Homo sapiens: one gene and its partners. The protein of the gene in region 1 interacts with the protein of each later gene in a pairwise test. Each region holds a gene or a part of one and is shown in the gene's direction. Other genes may lie near its edges.

What was found.
Region 2: the proteins of CHAT (region 1) and NDEL1 interact in binary tests that used the Homo sapiens proteins (3 or more experiments, as listed by UniProt).
Region 3: the proteins of CHAT (region 1) and ID1 interact in binary tests that used the Homo sapiens proteins (3 or more experiments, as listed by UniProt).
Region 4: the proteins of CHAT (region 1) and CHST8 interact in binary tests that used the Homo sapiens proteins (3 or more experiments, as listed by UniProt).

What each region holds. Positions count from the first base shown.
Region 1 is NC_000010.11:49,645,033-49,652,060, forward strand, and holds part of CHAT (choline O-acetyltransferase), read left to right. Parts: intron 1-1,472; coding exon 1,473-1,642; intron 1,643-3,474; coding exon 3,475-3,575; intron 3,576-4,475; coding exon 4,476-4,604; intron 4,605-6,851; coding exon 6,852-6,974; intron 6,975-7,028. UniProt on the Homo sapiens protein: Catalyzes the reversible synthesis of acetylcholine (ACh) from acetyl CoA and choline at cholinergic synapses.
Region 2 is NC_000017.11:8,445,876-8,452,903, forward strand, and holds part of NDEL1 (nuclear distribution protein nudE-like 1), read left to right. Parts: intron 1-878; coding exon 879-1,027; intron 1,028-2,674; coding exon 2,675-2,811; intron 2,812-4,904; coding exon 4,905-5,078; intron 5,079-7,028. UniProt on the Homo sapiens protein: Required for organization of the cellular microtubule array and microtubule anchoring at the centrosome. May regulate microtubule organization at least in part by targeting the microtubule severing protein KATNA1 to the centrosome.
Region 3 is NC_000020.11:31,601,034-31,607,031, forward strand, and holds ID1 (DNA-binding protein inhibitor ID-1), read left to right. Parts: upstream 1-4,255; 5' UTR 4,256-4,354; coding exon 4,355-4,780; coding exon of another isoform or gene 4,781-4,804; exon of another isoform or gene 4,805-5,019; coding exon 5,020-5,061; 3' UTR 5,062-5,477; downstream 5,478-5,998. UniProt on the Homo sapiens protein: Transcriptional regulator (lacking a basic DNA binding domain) which negatively regulates the basic helix-loop-helix (bHLH) transcription factors by forming heterodimers and inhibiting their DNA binding and transcriptional activity.
Region 4 is NC_000019.10:33,764,942-33,771,969, forward strand, and holds part of CHST8 (carbohydrate sulfotransferase 8), read left to right. Parts: intron 1-6,471; coding exon 6,472-6,509; intron 6,510-7,015; coding exon 7,016-7,028. UniProt on the Homo sapiens protein: Catalyzes the transfer of sulfate to position 4 of non-reducing N-acetylgalactosamine (GalNAc) residues in both N-glycans and O-glycans.

The sequences.
Region 1 (7,028 bases):
TTCCCCGGAAGCTGTGGTGTAGTTTTTTGAGATCTTGCTCATAGAATTTAGACACCTGGTTACCCCTAGCTGTAAGGGAGGCTGGGAAGTATAGCTCTAGTTTGTTATCCATGTACCAAGCTAAAAACCAGGGGTTCTACAAGCAAGGAAAGAAAGGACATGTGGTGTGCAACTAGGAGTCTCTACCATGTAATGAACCTTTCCCTGCAAATGCCATGCACCCATCTTCCCACACACAGAGCACTCTCACCCCTGCCCTGGGTGCCTCATCCTGTCCCAGCATCCAGCCCCCAAGGTCAGGCTCTCCTGGTGATACGCAGCCCTCACCATTGGGTCTTGAAGTGACTCCTTGGAATTTTAAACCAAAATGTTAAACTTTGGGTGGACTTTTTAACTTTTGGTGAACTTTAAACCAAGAGGCAGGCTGTGTACCCCCACACCCAGTACTGAGCAGTGGAGAGAACATCGTCAGCACAATAGACTCCTGTTTGGAAGAAATGGGAACACGCAGCGGGAGCAGGCCTGGCCCCCAACAGGTCCTGCCGGGTGGGCTTGGTGAACCTCCCTGTGCCCTGTGGAGGAAGCTGCCAGGGAGGGCAGCTTCTGGTGCTCTCTGGGAGGAACGCATGTGTCCTTGGTGAAATCACGTGCTCTGTGCCTGACTCCCGCTCCTGAAGAGCCGTCCTTGTCTGTACTCTTCCAGTGCCACCAGGGAGGGGGATTCCCTTTTGAGACCTGCTTACTCTAGAAGAATGTCTAGAGGAGCCTGGGAATTGGTAGAGGCTAACACAAAAGCCAGCTGTGGGCCAGGCTTGGAGCTCCTTTGGATCCATGAGTCCAAAACTGCCCCTACAAGCTCATCCAGATGTGGGTTCAAGGCAGCCTGGCCCTTCTGCCTGCAGCTCTGCCTCTGAACCAACAGCTTGGGGGCAGGGAGGTGACCAATACACTTCCTTCAGGTTTTAATGTGAAATTGCCTAATTTTGAAATTGCAACAACAATTTTGAAATTGCAGTTTAGATGTCTGAAAGTCATAGTTCAGCACAAACAAGCATGCCTACACACAGATGTGGCTCACAGGAGCCCCAGTGGAGGGTGCTGTTGGGTGGGGGATTAAGGGCCCTTCCACTGATGTGGGCTGACATGAGGGTCTAAGCATCCCGCTTCATCTTGGCATGCATGACCAATAGCCCACACATCTGGAGGAGAGCTGGTCACAGCTGGAGAGCAGGGCTCCTGCAGGGACCGTGCGAATGAGCTGGGATCCTGGGGTAGGACAGAGGCTCAGGACACTCTGGCTGACTTCACTGCCCACCCACAGTGGGGCAAGGTGGGGGGTCAGGGCTGGCTCAAGACCTGGGTCTTGTTGTGATCCCAGAAGACAGGGCTGCCCTGCCCTGTGTGGGGCTCTGAGGAGGGAAGACTGGCCTGGAGCGGGACAGGTGCTAGGGCTGTGCCTGCCTCCCCTGCAGACTCCACCAACCGGGACTCGCTGGACATGATTGAGCGCTGCATCTGCCTTGTATGCCTGGACGCGCCAGGAGGCGTGGAGCTCAGCGACACCCACAGGGCACTCCAGCTCCTTCACGGCGGAGGCTACAGCAAGAACGGGGCCAATCGCTGGTACGACAAGTCCCTGCAGGTAAGCCGTCCAGGTGGCCCTGCAAGAGCACAGCCATGCCCCCAGCGAGAGAGTGAGTAGGCAAGCGGGCACAGCCTGGTGCCCAGGCCCGCACGTGCTTGTGTCTGGCAGGCGCACTCACTGGTTTCTGCTGCCTAAGAGGCTGGGTCTGAGGGGTCAGGAGAGCTGGAGGGGTCTGAGATGTGCTGTTGATGTCAATCTCTGGACCAGCCAGAACTCTTCTCAGGAGCCAGTGGCCGAACCCAACTCAAACTCCCTAACCTTCCTGCAGCCTGTGCCAGGAAGGTCTGGGCCAGACCTGGGGCCCATTTCCCATCACCCATCACACCTGTGAGGTGGGGGTGTGCCAGGAGTAGGAGAGTATAACAGCCCCACTGAACAAATCCTTAATGCATGCTGAAATAATAATTTCTGATGCCCAGAGCTGTCAGCTTTTTGGATGTCCACCCCCGTGGCCTGGCGATTTCAACATACCTCCCTCAATCCCTGAGAAGTAGAACAGCCCAGCATCTCCATGGAAGAAAGACTGTAAGATGAGATAAAATAATTCATATATGTTCATTTACATGACATCAGCCTAGAAGCAAGAAATTTACTTTGACCTAGAGAAAAATACCCATGCAGACGGGATGAAGTCAAGGTCAAACCATTCATTCCCATTCTGCCATCCTCCTTTTATTCCCCCAACATGCCAATCCTGAACCTAGTCTTGTTTATTTTAAAGTCACTACACTTTTATATGATATGCCATGTAGTATAAAACAGCAGGCAAAAACAAAACATCTCTCTACTTTGGGTTAGCAAAGCTCACATTGATAAGCATATCTAGACAACACCTCGTTTTCCTTTCTCTCTGTCCCTACATTCTGCAGGTTTTCCTTTTTATTGGTTTGCATATTGATTCTGTTATTTCTGATGCGCTCTCCAGCTGCTGGGCCAGCTGTTTTAGCCTCTACAGTGGTGCTAATGGCTTATCATCTTTCATGGAGCTGTGGGGGTGAACCGATATAATACATGCACAGAATCTGGAACTCAGCCTTGGTAGCAGTTTTCAAAAGACACCGCTTTCCTTCCTTCCTTCCTTCCTTCCTTCCTTCCTTCCTTCCTTCCTTCCTTCCTTCCTTCCTTCCTTCCTTTTAGTGACAGGCACAGATAAGTACTAATGTGGGGGGTGGGTGCAGCCCTCTCCACCACCTCTCATGGGTTAGTCTATGCTGACCTCCAGGTTCTTTTCATCAGCAGGGCAGATTATCAGGCGAACCAGAGAAGCCAGCAGGGCTTCATGGACCTGAATTCAAGATGATGGAGAACTGGTCTCAGGATAGCAAGGCAGGGGACACTGGGGGCGGGAGGGGAGGGCCTGCAAAGGGTGAGTTTGGGGAGAAGCTCTGTGGGAAGTGAGTTTCTTTGTAGAATGGGAGTAAAGATCCAGCCTCTGGCACACAAGGCAAGAGATTGGGAGGAGACCCCGATGTGAGCTATGACAGGAAACAGGGCTGAAGGGCCTCACCCAGGCCCCAAGGGCAGCTGGGCAGACTCGTCCTGAGGATGAACTCCTCAGAAATCCCTGGACTGCTCAGTCCGGGAACTTGGGGCTCCACCTTCACTGCCCACAGCTTTTACGGGAAAGAGGTCGTGAGTGCAGAGTAGTCTTGGATTCTCATATTCTCAGGCCACTGCAATCACATGCAGTGTTCTCTTCAGGAAATAATGTGCTCTGGTGTCCCTGGAGAAGAGGTGCCCTGAGAAGCCAGGGGCCTAACCTGGGGCCAAGGGGCTGCCTTGCAATGCTGACTCTCCCATGATCGCCCACTCCCTCTTTCCTGTTGCAGTTTGTGGTGGGCCGAGACGGCACCTGCGGTGTGGTGTGCGAACACTCCCCATTCGATGGCATCGTCCTGGTGCAGTGCACTGAGCATCTGCTCAAGCACGTGTGAGTCTGGATCCCAGGGCTGCCATGCTGGGCCCAAAAAAATGTGGGTGGTCGCTGGGGGCTGTGTCAGTCTGGAAAGCGTCTTAACAAAAGATGAATTTGAAAAAAATGTGTACTATACACACACACACACACACACACACACACACACGATGAATTTGAAACCCAGCTTTGTATGCGACATCATGTGCTTCACGGGCCATGGATAGGAGGCAGCAGATTTACGGCAGTCAGGGAGAAGCATGGCAAGGAATTCTCAGGAACCTCTGCCTTGAGAGAGGGGAAGCCTACATCGATACCTATTGCTTATCCTGAGTCAGGGCCAGGCCCACGGCTGCCCCAGCACAGGGGGAGTTCTCTGAGTCTCACTGCTTCCAAATCCCAAGGCTGGGTCCCTCCTTAGCTCCCCAGCAGGGTTCCTCTGTGCCCTAAACACATGGTATTCCTTCCTCTATTCCCAATTTTACCCATTCTCTCCTAGAATCTTCTCCCTGCATCCAAGTCTTCAATTTCTTCCATGAAACTCAGGGTTACTGAAACCTAAACCAAGCCTAGTAGGCACAAACCTTGTAGAAGAGAACAACACAGCTTGCTCTTAAATTTCTCTCCAAGTCTTCTGTAAGGGTGTAACATGGTCTAATAGGAAAACAATGAAAAGAAATAATGGGTTTTGGAGTCAGGCGGAACTGGATGGAGCCCTGGCCCTGCCACTTAATGATTTTGGTGGCCTCTCTGAGCCTCAGTTTATTCATCTGCACGGTGGTTCAGGGGCAGCTCGTACCCCCTGAAACTCCATGGCCGCAAACACTGACAGCTAAGATGATTGCACAGAGCAAAGAAGAGATGCCTCCCACAGCTGTCTGGCCGCAGAGCCTCAGGAGGTTGCCTCTGTGCCCGCAGGACGCAGAGCAGCAGGAAGCTGATCCGAGCAGACTCCGTCAGCGAGCTCCCCGCCCCCCGGAGGCTGCGGTGGAAATGCTCCCCGGAAATTCAAGGCCACTTAGCCTCCTCGGCAGAAAAACTTCAACGGTAAGGATAACCGAAGTCTCCTTTGAGGGGTCCCCTAGGGACCACCCCGCCCTTGCCTACTAGCTCCCAAGGCTCCCTGGAAGTTTCCAAAGACCCCAGCTCCTCTGCCTCTCCTTGGGCTCCACCTCGTCCCCATCCCTCATGTAGTCAAATTAAAGGAGAGATACAACTCTGGGGAAATAACCTTGCTGAAGTATCCATCATTTCTCTAAAATGCAAACGCAGGGCTATTTTTTTTTTTTTTTTTTTTTTTTTTTTCAGTTTCACCTGACTGAGCAGAGTCAAGGCCGGGAAATCATCCCCTGCTTTAGGGGGAGTAATAAACAACTGGTTTGAATAGGTCATTTGAATTCAAGCTATTTAAATTTGCTTGAATGTACAGTGCAACTTGACAAAGGGGCCTTTTTCCCCAAGGGGAGGGGGCCGTTCAGGCCCTAACGGGACCCAGGCAGGAGGGCCTGGGGCAGCAGCAAGCAGTGGTGGCAGCCACATCCTGGCAACCACGTCTGCACTGTAGCTGTTGATTCTCCCATTCAGTAAGCAAGCACGAATGCATTCATTCACTGGTTTGCTCATTCATTCATCAAACATGTGCAGAGCTCTGGTGTGCACCCGGCCCGTGGTAAGGCTCTGAGAACACAGAAAGTTAAGTACCATGGGACCTGCACTCCATATTTGAGTGGAATAAGTAGACTCCCAGGCCAAAACATGTGATACAGTAAGATTAATGCCAAAAGCAGAAACAGCCATGCTGACCTGAACCCACAAAAATATAGAAGCTGAACTCTGTCAGGACTGTGAGGGAGGGCCTTGTAGAGACGGGCCTTGAAGGATGGATAGGAGTTCATGGTGCAAGCAGATGGGGAAGAGGCAGAAAGGCAGCTTCTTCAAGCTTGTACAAGTTCATAATGATGAAGGCTGGTTTGGAGACCAGCAAGTGAGAGAATGGCCAGAGTGGGGCCACAAAAAGGAAGTTGGGCCACACTGTGATGAGTGTCACTGTCCTGTTATGGGCCTAGAGCCTGCCCTGCCACTGGAGGGTTCTGTGCAGGGGGTATGGGGACGCCCCTGAGGAGGCTGTGGGAAGGGCACATGTGAGCAGGACAGAGTGTGGCCAGGCTGGGAAGCTGAAGAGCGGGAAGGACCCATCCACTGGGAGCTGCTGGAGAGGTTGCCTGGCTTCAGTGGGCATGGAGGGGCCTCAGGTGTTCTATAAAGTGGTGCTCACATCTCAGCTTTGCAGGGTTGTTCAGGAGCTAAGTCAGGGGCCAAGGCAGTGAGCTGGTGGGCTGCTGAGTCCTCAGTGGGTAAAGGAGTCCACTCACTTCCAGGGACCTGAGCAGACCCCACATTCCCCAAGGCCCCCAGCTCCACCCTCCAGAGGCTGAGGAGAGCCAGGAAAGGCCCATGGATGGGGAAGAAGGAGGCTTCTTCCTGGGGGTCCTGAGGGGCCCATACAAGTGGGTGAGGCCCGAGTGGGCACAGCTTGGGGGAGAGATTTCCAGGTGGCTGTGGTGATAGTGAGCTCAGTCTGTCCCAGACGTCTGTCAACAGGTAGGTCTAAGGAGCGAGTACTCATGGGAACTGGGTCTCCTCCAAGTCCCCCTGTGTTCCTAGCACCTGGCCCCACCGAGAGCTGAGCTGCTGTGAGCAGGAGGAATACTTCAAGGAGAGGCAGGCAGGGAGCATGGAGTCCCGACAGAAGGTGTGCGTGTGGGCTCGGGGTTCCCACTCAGGCTATGCGCTCTCCAGTGGGGAGGCACATAGACCTTGCCAGACACTGCTCCAGTGGGCAGTCAGCTCAGACCCCAGACTCCTGATGGAGGAGGAGATTGTTCAATATGAGGGTCAGCCAGTGCTCCAGAGTCTCAGTGCAGACTTGGAAAATGTTCCTGTTACTCCGACAGTGAATTACAAAATCCCGGGCATGTCACCTGTGTCACAGTTAATCCCTGACTCACTAACACAGCCAGGCCCACCTCCCCACCCACTCTCCAGAGCAGGGCCGACACCCCACTCAGCTGAGCTCACCTTGGGTCATAGTAGTCCTGGCCTGGTTTGTCTTCTGACACTTTCATAGGTCAAGGCATGTCTCTGACACCTCAGTGCACTCCTGAAGGGCAGGGACTACGTCCGCACCTTCCAGAACGCTAGGACACAGACCAGGCTCTAGAAGCCCGGGGAAACCCCAGATGCATGCATACTGTTTTGCATGCAATAAAAACATCTTTTCTTTTTCTTCCTCAGAATAGTAAAGAACCTTGACTTCATTGTCTATAAGTTTGACAACTATGGGAAAACATTCATTAAGAAGCAGAAATGCAGCCCTGATGCCTTCATCCAGGTGGCCCTCCAGCTGGCCTTCTACAGGTGAGTGAAGGTGGAGTGAGTCTGTACCCTGGAGGGCTGACGGACACAGTGCTG
Region 2 (7,028 bases), on another chromosome or scaffold:
AGTAGACGCTGGGGTCTAATGTGTTGAGTTTTATTAAAATGAGAAATATGTTTTTCAGGTGCTTAAGAGCAGCTGGCGACAAAAAATAGTTTGAAAAAAACGCTTAAAGTGAATTTTTGAATAAAATGTTTTCTTTCACGGAACCAGGGGAAAAGGTGGTTTAGAGTTTAGGAGTTCACTTAGAAACTTTGTAGTTGTCACTTTTCTAGCTATAATGTTCCTAGCTATATTATATTATAGTTCCTATAATTTTCAAAAGCTGCCTGATTATTTGTTTTGACAGATAGGTTGCCTCATTCTGCAGTATGTTTACAATTATATTGATAGGGAATATGCATTTATTTCATTATTGTTCATAGCCCTTTCAGTTTTGGAGTTTAGTTAGGGTTAAAAATTTCCCTTCTAAAAAGGAATTTTCAGGAGCAAAAGGATTCACCCCTTTCTCTGCCCTTTACCATCTACTGTAGCCACATGCTTGAGGGTATTTAGTGTCTGGGGAGTGGGTGGGTTCTGGGAAGGTTGGATGGGCAGGTGAAAGGTAGGGAATGTGAACTCTGTGCTTACCCTGGGCCGCATTTAGCCTGAAAATCCAGAGGTTTCCTTAACAAGTTTGCGGATTTTGAGGCAAGGATTTTTTATATTAGTTCTTTTCAGAGAGATTGTTATTGGGTTTCTTTCTGAGAGGAGAATGGTTGACAAAATTTAACATGAGTTTAGGCACTTAGAATGAATGTGTCATTTAGTTGTTTTTAAAGTAATTGTTACAAGAGTGTGGGTAAATTCCTTGGGTTCCCCCCCACCCTTTTAACTTGAGTTACCTCTTTAGTAAAGAGAACTGTATATTAATGACATGTACTTTCCTATACTGATGCCCTCAGGAGAAGCTAGAGCATCAATATGCACAGAGCTATAAGCAGGTCTCAGTGTTAGAAGATGATTTAAGTCAGACTCGGGCCATTAAGGAGCAGTTGCATAAGTATGTGAGAGAGCTGGAGCAGGCCAACGACGACCTGGAGCGAGCCAAAAGGTAAACGAATGACTGCATTTTGTTAGAAAAAAACCACCTTGGTAATTAGTGATTAAAATCTTTATTAGGCTCTTCCCCTAGATCTTAGTCCCAGAACATTTCCTGTTGGTGTTTCATGTCACCTGTAACTCATCGGACGGAAGGGAACCCCAAATCCTCATCTCCCAGATAACGCCCTTCAAAGCTTTCTCTTTCAATTTTTCTTTTTTCCTTCTTTCATATACTGTGGTTGATCCTATTGGTTTTGTTTTGTTTTTTGAGACAGGGTCTCACATTGTCGCCCAGTCTGGAGTGCAGTGGCATGATCTCGGCTCACTGCAACCTCTGCCTCCCAGATTCAAGCGATTCTTGTGCCTCAGCCTTCCAAGTAGCTGGGATTATAGGCATGTGCCACCACACCCAGCTAATTTTTGTATTTTTAGTAGAGACGGGGTTTTGCCATGTTGGCCAGGCTGGTCTTGAATTCCTGCCATCAAGTGATCTGCCCACCTTGGCCTCCCAAAGTGCTGGGATTATAGGCATGAGCCACTGCACCCAGCCTAGGTTTTGTGTATTTATTTATTTTTTAAACTGTCTCATGCATTCCCCCATCTTCCCTCTGTGCTCTTAACACTTCCATACTTCCTGTAGGTCCTCATATCTTATACCTGGATTCTGTAGTTATCCTCTAGCTGATATATCTTTATATTTCTGTTCCTTTTTATTCTCTTTTAATACTGACTGATGAATTTTCTTAAAATGTTGATTTCAGTTCAAATTTCTGAACAACGTGCAGTGGCTTGCTATCACTGTTGCCAAACTTTTATGCATGTGTAATTAGTTGTTTCTTAACCATTCCAAACTTAATTCCTATTACTTTATAATTGTTTCCTGGTATTTCCTTCCTTAATATTTATCCAGTGAGTCTTAAGTGACTGACATGATGCTAAACTTACAGATGCGGAGCTAGTCTGGTCACTACCCTTGGGGGTGACAGATATGTACATTCACTATGTTAATACCCTAGTAAAAAAAAGTGGGCAAGCTGCTGCTCCAGGGCATAGAGGAGGCAGCAGCCAGATTGGTTGCGGGGAGGTGGGCGGGGGGGGGGCAGTGGGGGAACCAATCAGAGGCTGAAGTGAAGTTACAAAGTGACACCCTATGCAAATGTCTGAGTGGTTGCAGAAAGCAAAGGGAATAGCTTCTGGTCCTTTTCTTACTTAGGTGTGGAAAGTTCCGGTTTTCCTTTTGATTTAGTTCTAGGAAGTCAGTGTGAATTGGCCTTAGGTTCCCTGACTTGGGACTTAATGTTTTAAACAAACTCTTACATATATTACAAGTTTTGAAAAGTTTTCTTTCTGAAAATGTGTAAACTTGATTGTATTGTGTTCAAAACACAGTGGAGATATAAATAGTGTAACAAATAGCCTTTCTGTAGGGAACATTAAGGAATAGATGGGAATTTAAAAGAATGTATTGTATATATTGCCCAACTGATAGAGACACTACGTGCCAGCAGTGGTCAGGAAGGGGCAAGATCATCTTCTTTGATTGGGGCCAGGCTGGCTAGGTCAGGAAATGTCACGAGATAAACTGACAGTTTCCTTTTGTACTATCTGTTTGCACATGTTATTTATTTAATTCATGTACTCTAATTTTTCTTTTTAGGGCAACAATAGTTTCACTGGAAGACTTTGAACAAAGGCTAAACCAGGCCATTGAACGAAATGCATTTTTAGAAAGTGAACTTGATGAAAAGGAATCTTTGTTGGTCTCTGTACAGAGGTTAAAGGATGAAGCAAGAGGTAAAATTTATAACTTAAAGAATACAGTTGACCCTTGAACAACATGGGTTTGAATTGTGTGGGCCCACTTATACTCTGATTTTTTTTCAACCAAATGTGGATTGAAAATACAGTATTCACGGCATTCAAAACCCTGTATATGGAGGGCTGACTTTTCATATATACGGGCTGACTGTGGGACTTCAGTATGCGCCAATTTTGGTGTAGGTGGGGGTCCTGGAACCAATCCCCATGTATACTGAGGGACAACTGTATTTATCCTCCCTTACCTTACTGTCCCTATGCCAGAAGAAGCTTAGAGTCAACTTTTTTTGGAGACGAAGTCTCGTACTTTCACCCAGGCTGGAGTGCAATGGCACAATCTCAGCTCACTGCAAATTCCGCCTCCTGGGTTCAAACAATTCTCCTGCCTCAGCCTCTCGAGTAGCTGGGATTACAGGCGCCCGCCACCACACCCAGCTGATTTTTGTATTTTTAGTAGAGACGGGATTTCACCATATTGGCCAGGCTGATCTCGAACTCCTGACCTCGTGATCCGGCCGCCTTGGCCTCCCAAAATGCTGGGATTACAGACGTGAGCCACCGCGCCTGGCCCCATCCAGCTAATTAAGAAAACATTTTTTTTGTGGAGACAGTCTCAGTATGTTGGCCAGGCTGGTTTTGAACCCTTGGCCTTAAATGGTCCTTCTGGTTCTGTCTCCCAAAATGTTGGGATTATGGGTGTGAGCCACTGTGCCTGGCTTCTTAATCATTTTAAAGTGTACAGTCCAGTAGTGTTAAGTATAGTCAAATTGTTGTGTAAACAAATTTTTAGAACTTTTTCATCTTGCAAAACTGAAACTATACCTATTGAATAGTGACTACCCATTTTCCCTTCCCTTCAGCCCCTGGCAACCACAGTTCTATTTTCTATGAGTTCAGCTACTTTAGATACCTCATATAAGGGAGATTATACAGTATTTGTGACTGGTTTATTGCATTTAGCATAATGTCCTCAAGGTTTATCCATGTGTAGTATGTGACAAAATTTCCTTCTTTTTTAAGGCTGAATGATACTCCATTGTATGTATTCATTTTCTTTATCTGTTCATCTGTGGATGGACATCGAGTTGCTCCCATCTCTTGCTATTGCGAATGATACCGCTGTGAACATGGGTGTCCAAATATCTCTTTGAGATCCTGTTTTGAATTCTTTTGGATACATACCCAAAAGGGGGATGACTTTGTTCCTTTTTTAACACAAGCAAATATTCTGTAAGTTAAATTGCATAATTGGAAAAGATAACATTAATTTTGGGTTAAAAACTCGACATTGGCTGGGTGTGGCGGCTCACGCCTGTAATTCTAGCACTTTGGGAGGCTGAGGCGGGTGGATCATTTGAGGTTAGGAGTTCGAGACCAGCCTGACCAACATGGTGAAACCCCATCTCTACTAAAAATTCAAAAAAAAAAATTAGCTGGGTGTGGTGGCGGGCACCTGTAATCCCAGCTACTTGGGAGGCTGAGGCAGGAGAATCGCTTGAACCCAGGAGGTGGAGGTTGCAGTGAGCCGAGATTGCGTCACTGCACTCTAGCCTGGGCGACAGAGTGAGACTCCGTCTCAAAAAAAAAAAAAAACGCTCAATATTTGAAAGCATGAGAAAAATTTAAACCGTTCTGAATACTTCTTTTCTAAAAGTAAATATTTCATAGTGATAATAGTTAATGCCAGCCCATTTAAAATTACAAAAATGCACTTAGTTGATTTTGCAATAACCCCAAAACTACATCATTTGAAAATAAAAGCAAATAAGTTGGTGAAGAATATTTACTTTTGTGTGAATTGTACTGTGGACTCTGCACTGTTTCTTTTTGCATATAAGCATAAGTAACTTCTCTCAGGTTATAGCATTTTTAAATTCTAAAAGATCATTTAGACAGTAGTTTTGCCATTTTTATTCCCCTAGAAATGAAAGTTATACTTAAATAGGAAATTCATTTTTGAGAAATAGTAATTTAGGAAGAAGACCTTTATGACATTTTAGATGTCACTTTGCTTGATATATTTGCTCCCTCTAGTGAGTATTCCTGCCCTTGTTTGCAATATTTTACAGATTTAAGGCAAGAACTAGCAGTTCGGGAAAGACAACAGGAAGTAACTAGAAAGTCGGCTCCTAGCTCTCCAACTCTAGACTGTGAAAAGATGGACTCCGCCGTCCAAGCATCACTTTCTTTGCCAGCTACCCCTGTTGGCAAAGGAACGGAGAACACTTTTCCTTCACCGAAAGGTTTGTAATGTCTTTTCTTTTTGAGGCGATGTGTTAGATGATCAGCTTACGGGGGTTTGTTGCTGAAGGCGGTTGCTAAGGTTTAAAGAGTAATTTTAGTTTAAAAGTTGGTGAAGTCTAGTGCTATGTGAAATAGAAGAAGGAATTGTTTTCCTAGGCCACTAATATATAGGAAACAGTGAAATGATGGTTACATTTAAGATGAGATTTTTAAAAGTTAAAGGTTTTTAAGGAAAGTTTATTTTTTGATGATAGCAATAGATTTTGTGATTACAGCCGTATGTTTAGGTAGAAAATTTTAAAAACACAGAAAAAGAAAATAAAAATCATGTTATCTTACCACTTACAGGCACCCACCATTAACATTTTGAGTTTTTTTTTCTATTGTGTGCTTGTGTGTGTTTGTGCACATCTCTTTGTCACATGCAAATTTGGGGATCATATTTAAACACAGTTTTATTTCTTCCTTTTGCCACTTTCCATATCATGGGAGACCTGAGGCCTTTCTACATAGAATGTACAGAGAATCATTAAGTTATCTTTCAGACTCATGTAAGACCGGCTTGGATGGACATGCCCATTCTGTTACATGCTTCAGGAGCTGCCATTTTCAAAAGCATTGTTCGGAGTAATTGATGATTGGCACATACAGAATACTCACATTGCCATGAACCAGTGTGTTTTTTTAAAATCCGGATAAGCAGAAAAACCACCTAGTAGCCACTAGATAGAACCTTAAAATGGAATCTTAAAGCTCTCAATTGAGATTTGTTTAGATTTTGCAGCTCGTAGTTCATATTTCTGCTACTCTCATCCCCCCTTGCTTTTTTTTTCCACCCTATATTGAAGCTGTCATCCCACCCTTTTTAAAATATAGGGTTTTATCTTTTAGAATGCTATGTGGGCAACTAGTACAGTGAGCTCTCTCTGTCTGTGCTACTCAATAGTCACCAGCCCATGTGGCTATTTAAATTTATATTAAAATGAAATAAAATATAAAATTCAGTTTCTTTGTCACATTAACCACATTTCAAGTGCTCAGTAACCCTTGAGTAGGTAATTCAACTTGTCTTTGCCTTGTTACGAGATGATATCAGATAAGGTATGTGAAGGTGCTGTATGGTTGTAAGGTGTTACTAATTGCGCTAGGTTTACTGCTGAGGACAAAGGGCAGGCAATAGATTATTAGCAGTCATCAGGAGCCCTCACGGTCAGTTTTTCAGAAGAGCTGCTTGTATATTTGAAGATTTCACAATTACACCTGAGGACTAACAAAGTTTTACTTTTATGTTACTGATTAGAATTATGCAGATCTGAAAATCCTTTAATTGAAGACGAATCAGAATAGTGAAAAGCCTCAGGTGCGGTGACACCCACAGGTGGTGCACATTTTTTTTTAATAGCCCGTTAGAGTTTTCATTCAGGGACTTGGGGAGTCAAAAGGACATGGAGCCTGCTGTGGCACGGCATGAGGTGTGCCAACCCTATGGCAGTAATATTTGCTTAATAGATATGTTTTTAGGCTGGAACCAATAGCATGAATTTTCACTGGCTAACCTAAAAGCTGCTGTGTACTAGATCACTGCAATTTCATTACAAGAAAGCACAGAGTTGTGAGCAGCAGCAGGTGGTCAGAGAAATCGGTAAGATCTTAGAGCTGATCTTTCTGAAGTGGTCTGTCTTTAATTGTATTTTACCTTTTACAATGTTTGTTTCTCTTTCTTTCTTTCTTTCTCTTTCTTTCTTTTTCTTTCTTCCTTTCTTTCTTTTCTTTTCTTTTTCTTCTCTTTTTTTTTTTTTTTTTTGACAGAGTTTTGCTTTTTTTGCCCAGGCTAGAGTGCAATGGTGCGATCTTGGCTCATTGCAACTTCCGCCTCCTGGGTTCAAGTGATTCTCCTGCCTTGGCCTCCCAAGTAGCTGGGATTACAGGTGTGTGCCACCACACCCAGC
Region 3 (5,998 bases), on another chromosome or scaffold:
GTAGCATTTTTGGGAAGTGGAAAAGGGCGGATAACCTGAGGTCAGGAGTTCGAGACCAGCCTGGCTAATGTGGCGAAATCCCATCTCTACTAAAAATACAAAAATTAGCCAGGTGTGGTGGTGGGCACCTGTAATCCCAGCTACTCGCGAGGCTGAGGCAGGAGAATTGCTTGAATCTGGGAGGTAGAGGTTGCAGTGAGCGGAGATCGTGCCATTGCACTCTAGCCTGGGTGACAGAGCGAGATTCCGTCTCAAAAAAAAAAAAAAGTGGATAGAAGGATATGCATAGGTTTTATACAAATACTATGTCATTTTATTTATTTTATGTATTTATATTTTGAGACAGGGTCTTGCTTTGTCACCCAGGCTGGAATGCCGTGGTGGCATCTTGGCTCACTGCAATCTCCACTTCTTGGGTTCATGAAATTCTCTTGCCTTAGCCTCCCAAGTAGCTGGGATTACAGGTGTGCACCACCACGCCCTGCTAATTTTTCTATTTTTAGTAGAGATGAGGTTTCACCATGTTGGCCAGATTGATCTCGAACTCCTGACCTCAGGTTATCCACCTGGCTTGGCCTTACAAACTGCTGGGATTACAGGCGTGAGCCACTGCGCCTGGCCCTGAATTAATTTCTACAGCATAATTTTCTCTCTTATTTTTATTTTTTTGAATCAGAATCTCACTCTGTCGCCCAGGCTGGAGTGCAGTGGCTTGGTCTCGGCTCTCTGCAACCTCCACCTCCTGGGTTCAAATGATTCTCCTGCCTCAGCCTCCCAGGTACTTGGGACTACAGGCGCCCACCACCACACCTGGCTAATTTTTGTATTTTTAGTAGAGACTGGGTTTTGCTATGTTGGCCAAGCTGGTTTCTCTGGAATTCATTGCAGTAAACAGAATTGCTGGATCAATTAATTCACAGTTGAAGGCCAGGCACTGTGGCTCACGCCTGTAATCCCAGTACTTTGGGAGTCTGAGGTGGAGAGATCACAAGGTCAGGAGTTTGAGACCAGCCTGGCCAACATAGTGAAACCCCGTCTCTACTAAAAAGACAAAAAATTTAGCCTGGTGTGGTGGCGGGCACCTGTAATCCCAGCTACTTGGGAGGCTGAGGCAGAAGAATCGCTTGAACCCAGGAGGCGGAGGTTGCAGTGAACCAAGACTGTGCTATTGCACTCCAGCCTGGGTGACAGTCTGAGACTCTATCTCAAAAAAAAATAAATAAATAGTTGGTGATGGCCAGGCACGGTGGCTCATGCCTGTAATCCCAGCACTTTGGGAGGCCAAGGCGGGCGGATCACCTGAGGTCAGGAGTTTGAGACCACCCTAGGCAACATGGCAAAACCCCGTCTCCACTAAAAATACAAAAATTAGATGGGCGTGGTGGTGGGTGCCTGTAATCCCAGCCTGAGGCAGGAGAATGACTTGAACTCAGGAGGTGGTGGTTGCAGTGAGCTGAGATCGCGCCACTGCACTCCAGTCTGGGCAACAGAGCGAGACTCTGCCTCAAAAATAAACAAAAATAAACACTTGGTGATGAATTAATACTCTAATTTCCTCTGGTTGACTGTTGTTCTTCCAATTATTTGGCAATTCTTTTGAGCAGCAAACTATTCCCTCCCATCATTAATTTAGGATTGCTAAACAAGGCGTAGGGAGTTTAGAGAGTTTTGGTGTGTGTGGTAAGGGGATGAGGAGTCTGGCTAATTAATTGATGATGTCTCTCTCTTTTGAAGCTGGTCTCACTGATTGGTTTGGTTTTCCTGGTTTCCTGATGTGGAGGCAGAAGGCTCCTTTACTTTTCCCTCATCCCCCGAACTTCTGTGGGAAAACGGAACCTGCTGATAACTCAGTGAATTAATTGCTGCGGGGTAGTGCGGTGGAGCGGAGCAGGGAGGGACCATAATATCACCCTCCACTGGTGAGCACAGATTTTTACCCCTGCTAATGTTGTGTGGCTTTGGGTGACTAATCTGAGCTTCGGTTTCCCCACCTGTGGCATGTCCAGGACTCTGCAGTCAGACTGCCTGCTCTCAGCAGGAAGCGGTTGCATTACAACACTGTACCCTCCTTATAATAACACAACTATGGTTATGACTTAGGCGTCGTGTGGAGCCTCAGTTTCCTTTGTATAAAGAAACCAAAGAGCTCCTTTCTTTAGAGTTGTGAAAAAGACTACAGAAGTTGATCAAGCCGGGTGACAGAGTAAGACCCTGTATCATTATTATTTTATTTTGAAACAGAGTCCCACTCTGTCGCCCAGGCTGGAGTGCAGTGGCATAATCTCGGCTCACTACAACCTCCGCCTCCTGGGTTCCAGCGAGTCTCCTGCCTCAGCCTCCTGAGTAGCTGGGGTATTACAGGTGCGCGCCACCACACCTGGCTAATTTTTCATTTTTAGTAGAGACGGGATTTCACCATGTTGGTCAGGCTGGTCTCGAACTCCTGACCTCGTGATCTGCCCACCACGGCCTCCCAAAGTGCTGGGATTACAGGCGTGAGCCACTGCGCCCGGCCCCCTGTATCCTTTTTTTTTTTTTTTTTTTTGAGACGAGTCTCACTCTGTCGCCAGGCTTGAGTGCAGTGGTGCGATCTCGGCTCACTGCAACCTCCGCCTCCCAGGTTCAAGCAATTCTCCTGTCTCAGCCTCCCGAGTAGCTGGGATTACAGGCGAACGCTACCATGCCCGGCTAATTTTTGTATTTTTAGTAGAGATGGGGTTTCACCATATTGGTCAGGCTGGTCTCGAACTCCTGACCTCAGGCAATCCACCCGCCTCGGCCTTCCAAATTGTTGGGATTACAGGCGTGAGCCACCGCGCAGCCCTTCATTTTTTAAAATAAGAAATAAATGAAAAAAGATGATCAAGACAAACTCTTCATACAGTGCCCGCTGTACAAAGTAAGAAATTAATAATGGTCACGTTTGTGATTATTATTTAAACACCAAGCAGATATTAAATATTAGGGCTCAGAGAGGGCATGCGACCCGCCTGAATTCACTCAGCTGCAGAGCTGGAAAGAGAACTCAGGCCTTTTTCCCCACGCTGGAAGGGGTAGCTGGGGCGGAGAGGTGGGGGGAGCGGTGAAGAAACCCCAAGCGGCCCAAGCTGTGGGTCTGGGTTGGGAGACTCGCAGGTGTGGGGCGGGGAGGTAAGGTGACCCTTGCTCAGCGACCGCGCCCGCAAGAAACGCATTCCCAGGCCTCCCGCCCGGGGTCTGCAGGTGACGGGCTGGGGGGAGCACGGGAACTAGCTAGACCAGTTTGTCGTCTCCATGGCGACCGCCCGCGCGGCGCCAGCCTGACAGTCCGTCCGGGTTTTATGAATGGGTGACGTCACAGGCCTGGCGTCTAACGGTCTGAGCCGCTGGTTCAGACGCTGACACAGACCGGCCCGGGAAGGGAGGGGGGAGACTGTAGCTCCGCAGCTGCCGCGCCGTGGGAGGGAGACCCTGCTCTGAGGTCTTTGAGAAGAAAATTTAAAAAGCAGCCAAAAATGGGAAAAAACATTAAAAAATCACGAACTGTTGCAGGTTCAGGAAATTTTTGCAAGGAGCTGCAAATTCAAGGTGGAATCGAATGCAGCCTCACTCCACTGCGCTCTATCTAGTTCACTTCCCAGCCACCCAGCCCCAAACTTACTAGACTTTCCCGAATTAATTGCTCCCACCCGGGAGGGATCTGGGTAGGCCCTCCGGGTCTCAGGAACACGAACAGCAACATTATTTAGGAATTGAGAAAGCCCAGGGGAGCAGATGTAAAGGAGCGCCCGCTTTAAATTTCGGTCCTGATATTTGTAGATCAGGGTCCGAGAAGCATCTTCCAAGAGGGTCCGGAAACCCAGGCTCTCTGGGCTATCCAGAGCCAGCCGCTTCTCCGTTCGGGCCTCAATTTCTCTCATCTGTGAAATGGAGCTGGAGAAGTGAGAAAGTGAATATGGGAAAAACTGATTCCTGAGGTCTTTTCATTATAAGGCAATGCCTGCTTAGCTTCCTTGCCTCCTTCCAGAGGAGCCCAGTGCGGCCCTCGCCTCTACCCGCTGCCCTGCCCGGTGCCCTGCCACCGACCCACCCTTGCTGTTCTGAAACCCGGGTCGTCTTTCCACACTGCGAGCAGGCACTAGACGAGCAGGAGGCTGGACCTAGGAGCGCGGGTCACGCCCCCATGCCGCCCATTGGCTGCTTTTGAACGTTCTGAGCCCGCCCCTCCGGGGGCCGTGGCGTGTTTATAAAAGACAAGCTGTGGCTCCGCACTCTCATTCCACGTTCTTAACTGTTCCATTTTCCGTATCTGCTTCGGGCTTCCACCTCATTTTTTTCGCTTTGCCCATTCTGTTTCAGCCAGTCGCCAAGAATCATGAAAGTCGCCAGTGGCAGCACCGCCACCGCCGCCGCGGGCCCCAGCTGCGCGCTGAAGGCCGGCAAGACAGCGAGCGGTGCGGGCGAGGTGGTGCGCTGTCTGTCTGAGCAGAGCGTGGCCATCTCGCGCTGCGCCGGGGGCGCCGGGGCGCGCCTGCCTGCCCTGCTGGACGAGCAGCAGGTAAACGTGCTGCTCTACGACATGAACGGCTGTTACTCACGCCTCAAGGAGCTGGTGCCCACCCTGCCCCAGAACCGCAAGGTGAGCAAGGTGGAGATTCTCCAGCACGTCATCGACTACATCAGGGACCTTCAGTTGGAGCTGAACTCGGAATCCGAAGTTGGAACCCCCGGGGGCCGAGGGCTGCCGGTCCGGGCTCCGCTCAGCACCCTCAACGGCGAGATCAGCGCCCTGACGGCCGAGGTGAGATCCAGATCCGACCACTAGATCATCCTTATACCGACGGGGAAACGGAGGCCAGAGAGGGCGTGGGCGCTTGCACCACTTCCGTCCCATCCTTGCGGGTACCTGGCTATGCGGGGGTGCCTAAGGAGCCTGGAAAAAGCGCTCCCCCGTCGTGCTTCCTGGGGAAGGGGGCGTTCGCTGCGCTCGGAGCGGCGTCCCTTCCAACCCGCCGGTCTCATTTCTTCTCGTTTTCACAGGCGGCATGCGTTCCTGCGGACGATCGCATCTTGTGTCGCTGAAGCGCCTCCCCCAGGGACCGGCGGACCCCAGCCATCCAGGGGGCAAGAGGAATTACGTGCTCTGTGGGTCTCCCCCAACGCGCCTCGCCGGATCTGAGGGAGAACAAGACCGATCGGCGGCCACTGCGCCCTTAACTGCATCCAGCCTGGGGCTGAGGCTGAGGCACTGGCGAGGAGAGGGCGCTCCTCTCTGCACACCTACTAGTCACCAGAGACTTTAGGGGGTGGGATTCCACTCGTGTGTTTCTATTTTTTGAAAAGCAGACATTTTAAAAAATGGTCACGTTTGGTGCTTCTCAGATTTCTGAGGAAATTGCTTTGTATTGTATATTACAATGATCACCGACTGAAAATATTGTTTTACAATAGTTCTGTGGGGCTGTTTTTTTGTTATTAAACAAATAATTTAGATGGTGGTAAAGTTGTAGTGACTTCTTGGGTTGAGGGGAGGGGCCTGGGCTGGGGGTTGACCCCTGACCCTCTTCACAGCTGGTTCTGGGAGGAGAATTGGAGGGCTACATCTGGATTGTTGCTCTTACCGGCCTGAATGAGTGTTTCCGGTGTCTTTAAAGTCTATTCTTCCCCCACCATCCCTGCCCATTTCCCTGCTCCCCAGTGTTATAAAACTAAATACTCCAGACCTCTGGGGTTTCTCACAGTGATCATTGGGCCATCTAGATCACCTGGGGAGGTTGTTAAAATGCAGATGAACCTGCCAGGGCCCCCTCTGTATTGGGAGTATTGAGCAAGCCATTTAAGTTGGAGAACCTGGCCGCTGGACCACCCACTTCCTTGCCAAGATGTGGATAAAGTGAGACCCAGTGGAAAGGGACTTGCTTAGGGCCATAGCTTGTGAGAGGCAGTGATTCTATCACCCCATTCCCCAGTTGGAGGTGCCTCCCCCAACAGCCTACCTCTGGGTTCCAGCAGGCAGCCC
Region 4 (7,028 bases), on another chromosome or scaffold:
TTTGGTTTTCCATTCCTGAGTTATTTCACTTAGAAAAATAGTCTCCAGTCTCACCCAGGTGGCTGCGAATGCCATTAATTCATTCCTTTTTATGGCTAAGTACTATTCCATCATATATATATATATATATATCAGAGTTTCTTTATCCACTCGTTGATTGATGGGCATTTGGGTTGGTTGAGTGGGCCCTATTTTAATATGACTGGTGTCCTTATAAGAAGAGGAGAAGAGACACACGTGTGCAACAGCTGTGTGAAGACGAAGCAGAGATTGATCTTCTGTTGTTGCAAGCCAAGGAACGCCTGGGCTGTCGAAAGCTGGAAGAGTCGAGGAAGCATCAGCCCGTACCCAAGAGGCAGTGGAGGGAGTGTGACCCTGCTGGCACCTTCATTTCAGACATCTAGCCTTCGGAACTGTGAGAGAACACATTTTTGTCATTTTAAGCCTCCCAGTTTGGGATACTTTGTTACAGCAGCTGCAGGAACAAACCAAAGCACCTCCCGTGATGGTTAATTATATACGTCACCTTGCCTAGGCCATGGTGCCACAGGGTTTAGACAAATGCCAGTCTTTGTGTGTGTGTGTGTGTGTGTGTGTGTGTGTGTGTGTGTGTCAGAGAGAGAGAGAGAGAGAGAGAGAGAGACGGAGTCTTACTCTGTTGCCAGGTTAGAGTGTAGTGGCGCGATCTCCGCTCACTGCAACCTCCACCTCCTGGGTTTAAGCGATTCTCCTGCCTCAGCCTTTCGAGTAGCTGGGATTACAGGCACACACCACCATGCCCAGCTAATTTTTGTGTTTTAGTAGAGACGAGGTTTCACCATGTTGGCCAGGATGGTCTTGATCTCTTGTGGTCTCGCGATCCACCTGCCGTAGCCTCCAAAGTGCTGGGATTACAGGTGTGAGCCACCACGCCCGGCCAGGAAGGCATTTTTTAGATGTGATTTGCTGTAAAATGTGTAGCCTTTGAGTAGAGGAAATGACCTTCCACAATGTGGGTGGGCTTCATCCAATTAGTTGTAGGCCTGAAGAGAAAAGAGTGAAGTTCCCCAAGTAGGAGGGAGTCTCGGACCTCCTTCCCATGCAAGCTGCGGCACCAGGTCTTCCCTGGGTCTCCGGCCTGCTGGCAGATTTTAGATTGCCAGCCCCCAGAATCACATGAGCCAGTTTCTTAAAATCAACCCGTCTCGCTCTCTCCTCTCTCTCTCTTCTTCTTCCTTTCCTCCTTCTCTCCTCTCCCTGTCTCGCTTCCCTCTCTCCTTCTCCCCTCCTCCACCTCTACCTCTCCCTTCCCTCTCTCTTTCTCTCCGTCTCTTTCCCGCCTCCATATATATCACCTGTGGGCTCTCTGTCTCTCTGATAACCCTAACTAGCATGCCACCCCCCCATTCAGAACCCTTCATACTTCCCATGGAGTGGAGCCTGGCATTTCCCTCAGGCCTCTCTCCCCCAACCCGCCCACCTTCTCTCCTGCCAGCACCCTGCACTCGGGGCAGGCCATCTGTAGCTCAGCACTGCACTGTGAGGTCAGGTGCGTGACCAGCTGTGGGGCTGCCCCAGGGCTCGGAGGCCTTTCTTGTGTGCACCTTAGGTGTGGGAGCTGCTTCTTCCTAATGGGGGCATGGAAGCAGCAGGGCAGAGGCCGGCAGCCTGGGCTGTCCGGGACAACAGTGTTCATCCCACCAGATGCCACTGTAAGGAGTCCAGGTGGAGCCGAAGCTCAGAATCCGGGTACTGCACGTGCTGAGGACCAAGATGCAGTCGGGACCTTGCCTTCAGGGAACTCCCCACCCCCAGTCGGGCCAGCCTGAGCCAAGAGAAGCAGCCAAAAGCCCTGGAGGCTCCCTGGCCTGTTGGGCAATGGAAGTGGACGTGGAGTGGACAGCGCCAATGGGTGTGGGGCAACCTGCCAGCAGACTCAGCCACCAGAAGCCCCGGGCACATGGAAACGCGGCCACACAAACGGCCCCATCAGGAAATCCCAAAAGACCAAGAAGCACGACTCAAACTCCACCACAGACAGGGACCTGGGACTGGCATGGCCGCTCCTGCCCTCCTTCCCCAGTTCTCTCCCATGCCTGTCCCTCTGCAGATTTGACTCTTTAAGGACAGTCGCAGTGATGGGAGTGGCGGGACACTAGCATCATCGCCCATCAGGGCTCGGGGCTGGGACATGAGCAGCCAATGCAGCCGTCATTCTCCCAAGAGTGAGCCACCTGGGGCTGGGGGAGGCCAAGGGCTCATTCGAGGCAGTTGGGTCCTGTCCTCACCTGTCAGTGCTGCCTGTCTACAGGGCCTGACCAAAAGGCTGCTCCCCAGTTACCACCCTCCATGGCTCCTGGGCAGTGGGGATTGGGGCTTTTGTGTGGCACCCTGCAGGTCTTCCTCCTGTGAGCCTAGAGAGGAGCGGGCAAGAGACCCTTCTCCTTGGACATGCTGGTATAGCCTCCTCCCCAACTCTGCCCCAAACCCAGGCCTGATGACTAAGAAACTGGCCTCACACACTCATCAGTCTCTGCCTCTCCTCAATCAGGAGGCTTTTCAGCTAAACGCTGAGAACTTCAGCCAATGAAGAGTTCACACTGTGGAACACATTTGGCAGTGCCCATAACTCACGCCTTGTTTATTCTCACCGATGCTCTTATCATAGCGCATGTGTTCCAGCCACTCCACGCATGTCATCTGTCCAGAAAGAGAAAGTGCTTGTTTATTTCTTACTGTGCGGGGGGATGGAGCTCCCTTACAGATTGTGAACCTTATATTGACAGGAGAAGAGAGGTAACTCAAGACACCGAAAGTGGGGTGTGCGTGGTTGGTCTTGGATTCTGTCGCAGGGGTGGAGGTGGGGAGGCAGGGAAGGTGCGTGGCAGCATTGGTGGCGTTGGATGGAAGAGGAGGTGGGTTGTGGCTGGAGTTGCTCTGCAAGGCCACTGATGTTATCTAGATTGTACGTTTTATTTGGGGGCTTGAGAGGGGCTGGAGGTGGTTATACTGAGGCCAAAACTCCTTCCCACCCATAAGTGCCCCCCACGGCACTGGTACCACTGACCCCTGGTGGCAAACCTTCCTCATCCTCGTGAGCCCTTAGCTGTACTTCCCTGAGCGCTGATGGAGCTGTCCAGGGTCCTGACGTGCAGCCCACTTGGGGATGTGCAGACCCCTGCCCCAGGATACCTAAGGTTTCTCCTGGTTTTCACTTGCCCAGAGCCAGCAGTGGTTTTTGCTTCAGCCTTTATCTGACTGGTGCATGGAAGAGCAGTTTTCTTCCTAGTGGGGACACTAGGTTCACGGCAAAGGGGAGGTCCCTTTAGATTTCCTTCATTACGTTTCTTCTTTATTCGAAAGTGAACTTGTAGCCAGGTATGGTGGCTCGCACCTATAATTCCAGCCCTTTGGGAGGCCGAGGCAGGAGGATTTCTTGAGGCCAGGTGTTTGAGACCAGCCTGGACAACATAGCAAGACCCCATCTCTAACTATTTCTAAAATAAATGTAAATTTTTTTTCTTTTTCTTTATTTTATTTTATTTTTTTGAGACAAAGTCTCACTCTGTTGCTCAGGCTGTAGTGCAGTGGTGTGATCTCAGCTCACTGCAATCTCTGCCTCCTGGGTTCAAGTAATTTTCATGTCTCAGCCTACTGAGTAGCTGGGATAACAGGCATGCACCACCACACCCAGCTAATTTTTTTGTATTTTTAGTAGAGATCGGGTTTCACTATATTGGCCAGGCTAGTCTCGAACTCCCGGACTCAAGTGATCAGCCCATCTCAGCCTCCCAAGTGCTGGGATGACAGGCATGAGCCACCGTGCCCGGCAGTAAATTTTTAAAAATGTTAAAGTGAGCTTGTGGGGATAGGTCTAATCTTTGCCTGATAAGCTGCCGTAAGTCTAAGGGTTGGGAATAGCTTATGGCAAACTCAGGCTCTACTTAAGATGTTACTGATCTCTCTTACTCTCCACAAGGCAATTTTTCCTTTCAAAGGAGGAAGTTGCAGGCAGGTTGGCTTTATGGACACATGTAAACAGGAAATCAGGAGACTCGCCCAGCCCCAGGCTTTGTCTAGAAGGAACTTTTCCTCTAGTTAATGCCAAGGGCTCTAGCTCAGCGAGCATTAGAGTGGGACAGCCCCAGAAGCTTAGGCTCAGAGTCCAGAGGTCCAGGAGACAGTGTCCCCCTGTCCAGTCCTCACAGGTAAAATGGAACAGGACCACAGCCCACTGCCCTCCGAGGCTGTGGGGACAGTGCCAGTGGGAGGTCATGGCCTCAGGGGCTGCAACCTCAACAAGCACATGGCCTTCCATCTTCCCCCCGACTGGCAGGATCCCTTTTGGAAGTGGCTTCTCAGCCCCACTCTTGGCCAAATCTGGCATGACTCATTTGCTTTAGAAAAGGAATATATAAGCACCGTCACACCTTGATGAGATGACAGGAGTGACAAGCAGAGTGATTTCCCATATCTGAGACTCTGAGGAGGAGAGGTGGTTTAGCAGAGCCAGCTGCCATAACCAGAAGAAAATAATTAAGGAAATCTGGCAGAGTAGAGGAAAACCAAGTGGTGCAGCGGGTCCCTTCTAGTGAAGGGAGCTGTCATCATCGGCTGCGGGAGAGAAAGGAGCTCTGGAGGCTCGTGCTGGGACAGCTGCAGTAATGATGGGATGGGGAAGAGGAGGGGGTGGCTGTCAAGGAGGGAAATAGACTCTGGGCATGGCAGGGGGTGGCAATGAGCAGCTTGATTCTAAAGACTCCTCTCTCAGGCCAGGCACCTGCTACTTACACCCCACACCCTGAAGGGTGCAGCCAGGTCTACTTGGAGCTTCCCCTCAGTCTCCAGGGAAGAGTCTAGAAGGCCTGTTTCAAAGATCCCCCACATGCACGCATGTGCACATAAGCTTGGGAGTGCCCAGGAAGATGGGGACACTCTGCCCTTTGCCCAGGGGAGAGCATACCCTTGTTCCCAGCCCAAAGGGACAAGCGGAAGAAAGATGAAATGTGTCCCAGTTCTGCCTGCATTTCTGCCTCTCTTGGGACTTGAGGAAGGTTCGGGCAAGCTCAGGGAATTCAGGCTGTCCATTCCAGGGCTGACCTTGCATCTCCTTCCTGGCCTGCTAATGACTGAAGGAGACGTGCGGGCACGGCCTCAGCCTTACATTGTCTGGGGCATGGCAGTGGCTGAGTCTGTAAAACTGGACCTCATGGAGAAATCCACAGAATCTCTGGCTCAGGGAAGACCTGGAGATCCCTTCACCAGCTGGGCTCCTGCCACTGGACCTCTGCCCAGGACGTGGAGACAGCCAGGAAAGTGGTGGGACACTGGAACCCCCCTCCCGCAGGCAGCAGCCAGGATTTGCTCAGGTGTGGTCGGGCATGGTGCCCCGGCGCGCCAGCCAGAAGATCCAGCTCTCTCCTTAAGGGATAGCTGGCTCTGATGGTGACCATGGCTTTTGGCAGAGCCTCAGGACGAAAATGTCCACCCACATGGTACTGGAGCAGAAAGAGCCCCTGATTCCTCGGTGGCCAGGTAGGGACTGGGGAAGGAGGCTCCAGCTTCTAAATAGATTCCCCCCAAAGGGAATCTCCTTGTCCTCCTGCGACTTTCCCCCAAAGCAGACCAAATGAGGTATGACACAGAATATTCTGCTCTGGCCAAAGGTTCACCTCACCAGAGCTTGCTTCTTAGGTGAGCCCAGCCCAGGCATGGGCCTCCTTGGTAGGCAGAGGGGGCGTTCCAGAGCATGGCCATTGATGCACTGGTCTCTCTGTGTCTTCCTGAGGTCATCAGTAAGTTAACGCTGGACAATTACCCTCTACCTGGGCGCTGCTTAGGGCTTTGGGGGAGACCAGGGCGAGCAAGATATGCTTAGCTCACCCCAGAACTCCAGAGCCAGCTGAGAAGGCCAAGATCACAAAGCAAATGCCCAGGTTAGGGAACTTCCTGTAGCAAGAGGAGAAGAAGCACGTTCCATTCCTAGGCCTGGTGTGTGCAAAGGTGTGGGTGTGAATCATATTCCAAGCATAGAGAATCCACAGTGGCCAGAACTGGGGCATGGCTGATGGGGTGTGGAGAGAGAGTGGATCGAGCTTTCTGAAGGGTCCTTTCCCTGTGACTTAATGACATGGTGGGGTGCAGGAGGAGGTGGCCTGTGAGAGTCCTGGCTGCTCCACAGGGCAGGTATGGGCACACCTGGGCAGGGTGCCTTTCCAGACCTTGTAGATCACATCAGGAGGCAGGCGTGATGCAGAGAAGAGAGCCTCAGCTGCGAGCCAGTGGGACCACATGTTTGCTGCGTCCCCATTTTCTGCATGGGTAGGGGATGGAGGGGCTCCAGCACTGAGCCATGCCCTAAGCTGCCTTTCCCTAGAGCCTACCCCAAGATCCCTCCAGCCTGGATGTCCACAGCCAGCAGCCCATAAGCAGTTCCCTGGGAGCCATGTGGCAGATCCGCTAATACTGTCCTCTCCTCTGTTTGCTTTTCAGGAATAAAGTTCAACATCAGGCCAAGGCAGCCCCACCACGTAAGTTCTGAGAGTCAGATAAATCTCAGTGCACACAGCCCTTGGGAAACTGGGGAGGGCTGGGAAGAAAATTAGGAGCTCACATTGGATCCATTCTTGGAAAGAAAAATGTGTCCAGCCTTTCCCAGGAGCCTTGGGAACAAAGCCCAGGGCTCTGGACCCATGAATTTTCCCTTCCTTGTTAGAAGGCTTCTTTGCACGGTGCTAATAGAGGCCGTAAATCTGAGCCCGCCTGCAGGCCACCTATTCCCGCCACCCTCTCCCAGGCCAGGTTCCTGGGAGGACCGCGCCATCTTGTGGCCGAAATGACACTTACACCTCAGCGGGAGGGAGGCCTTTGGGTGCCGGGCCAGGGCTCAGACCGGAGGGGTCTCACCTACAGAGTCAGCCTGTCTCCCTCACCTGAGAGGGACAGGAACCCCAGCCGTGGTGAGAGCCTGACCTGTGTGGCCCTCAGTGCCCAGCTGTCCTTTCCACTCAGATAACCACTTCTCTTCTTGCCCCAGGACCTCCCACCAG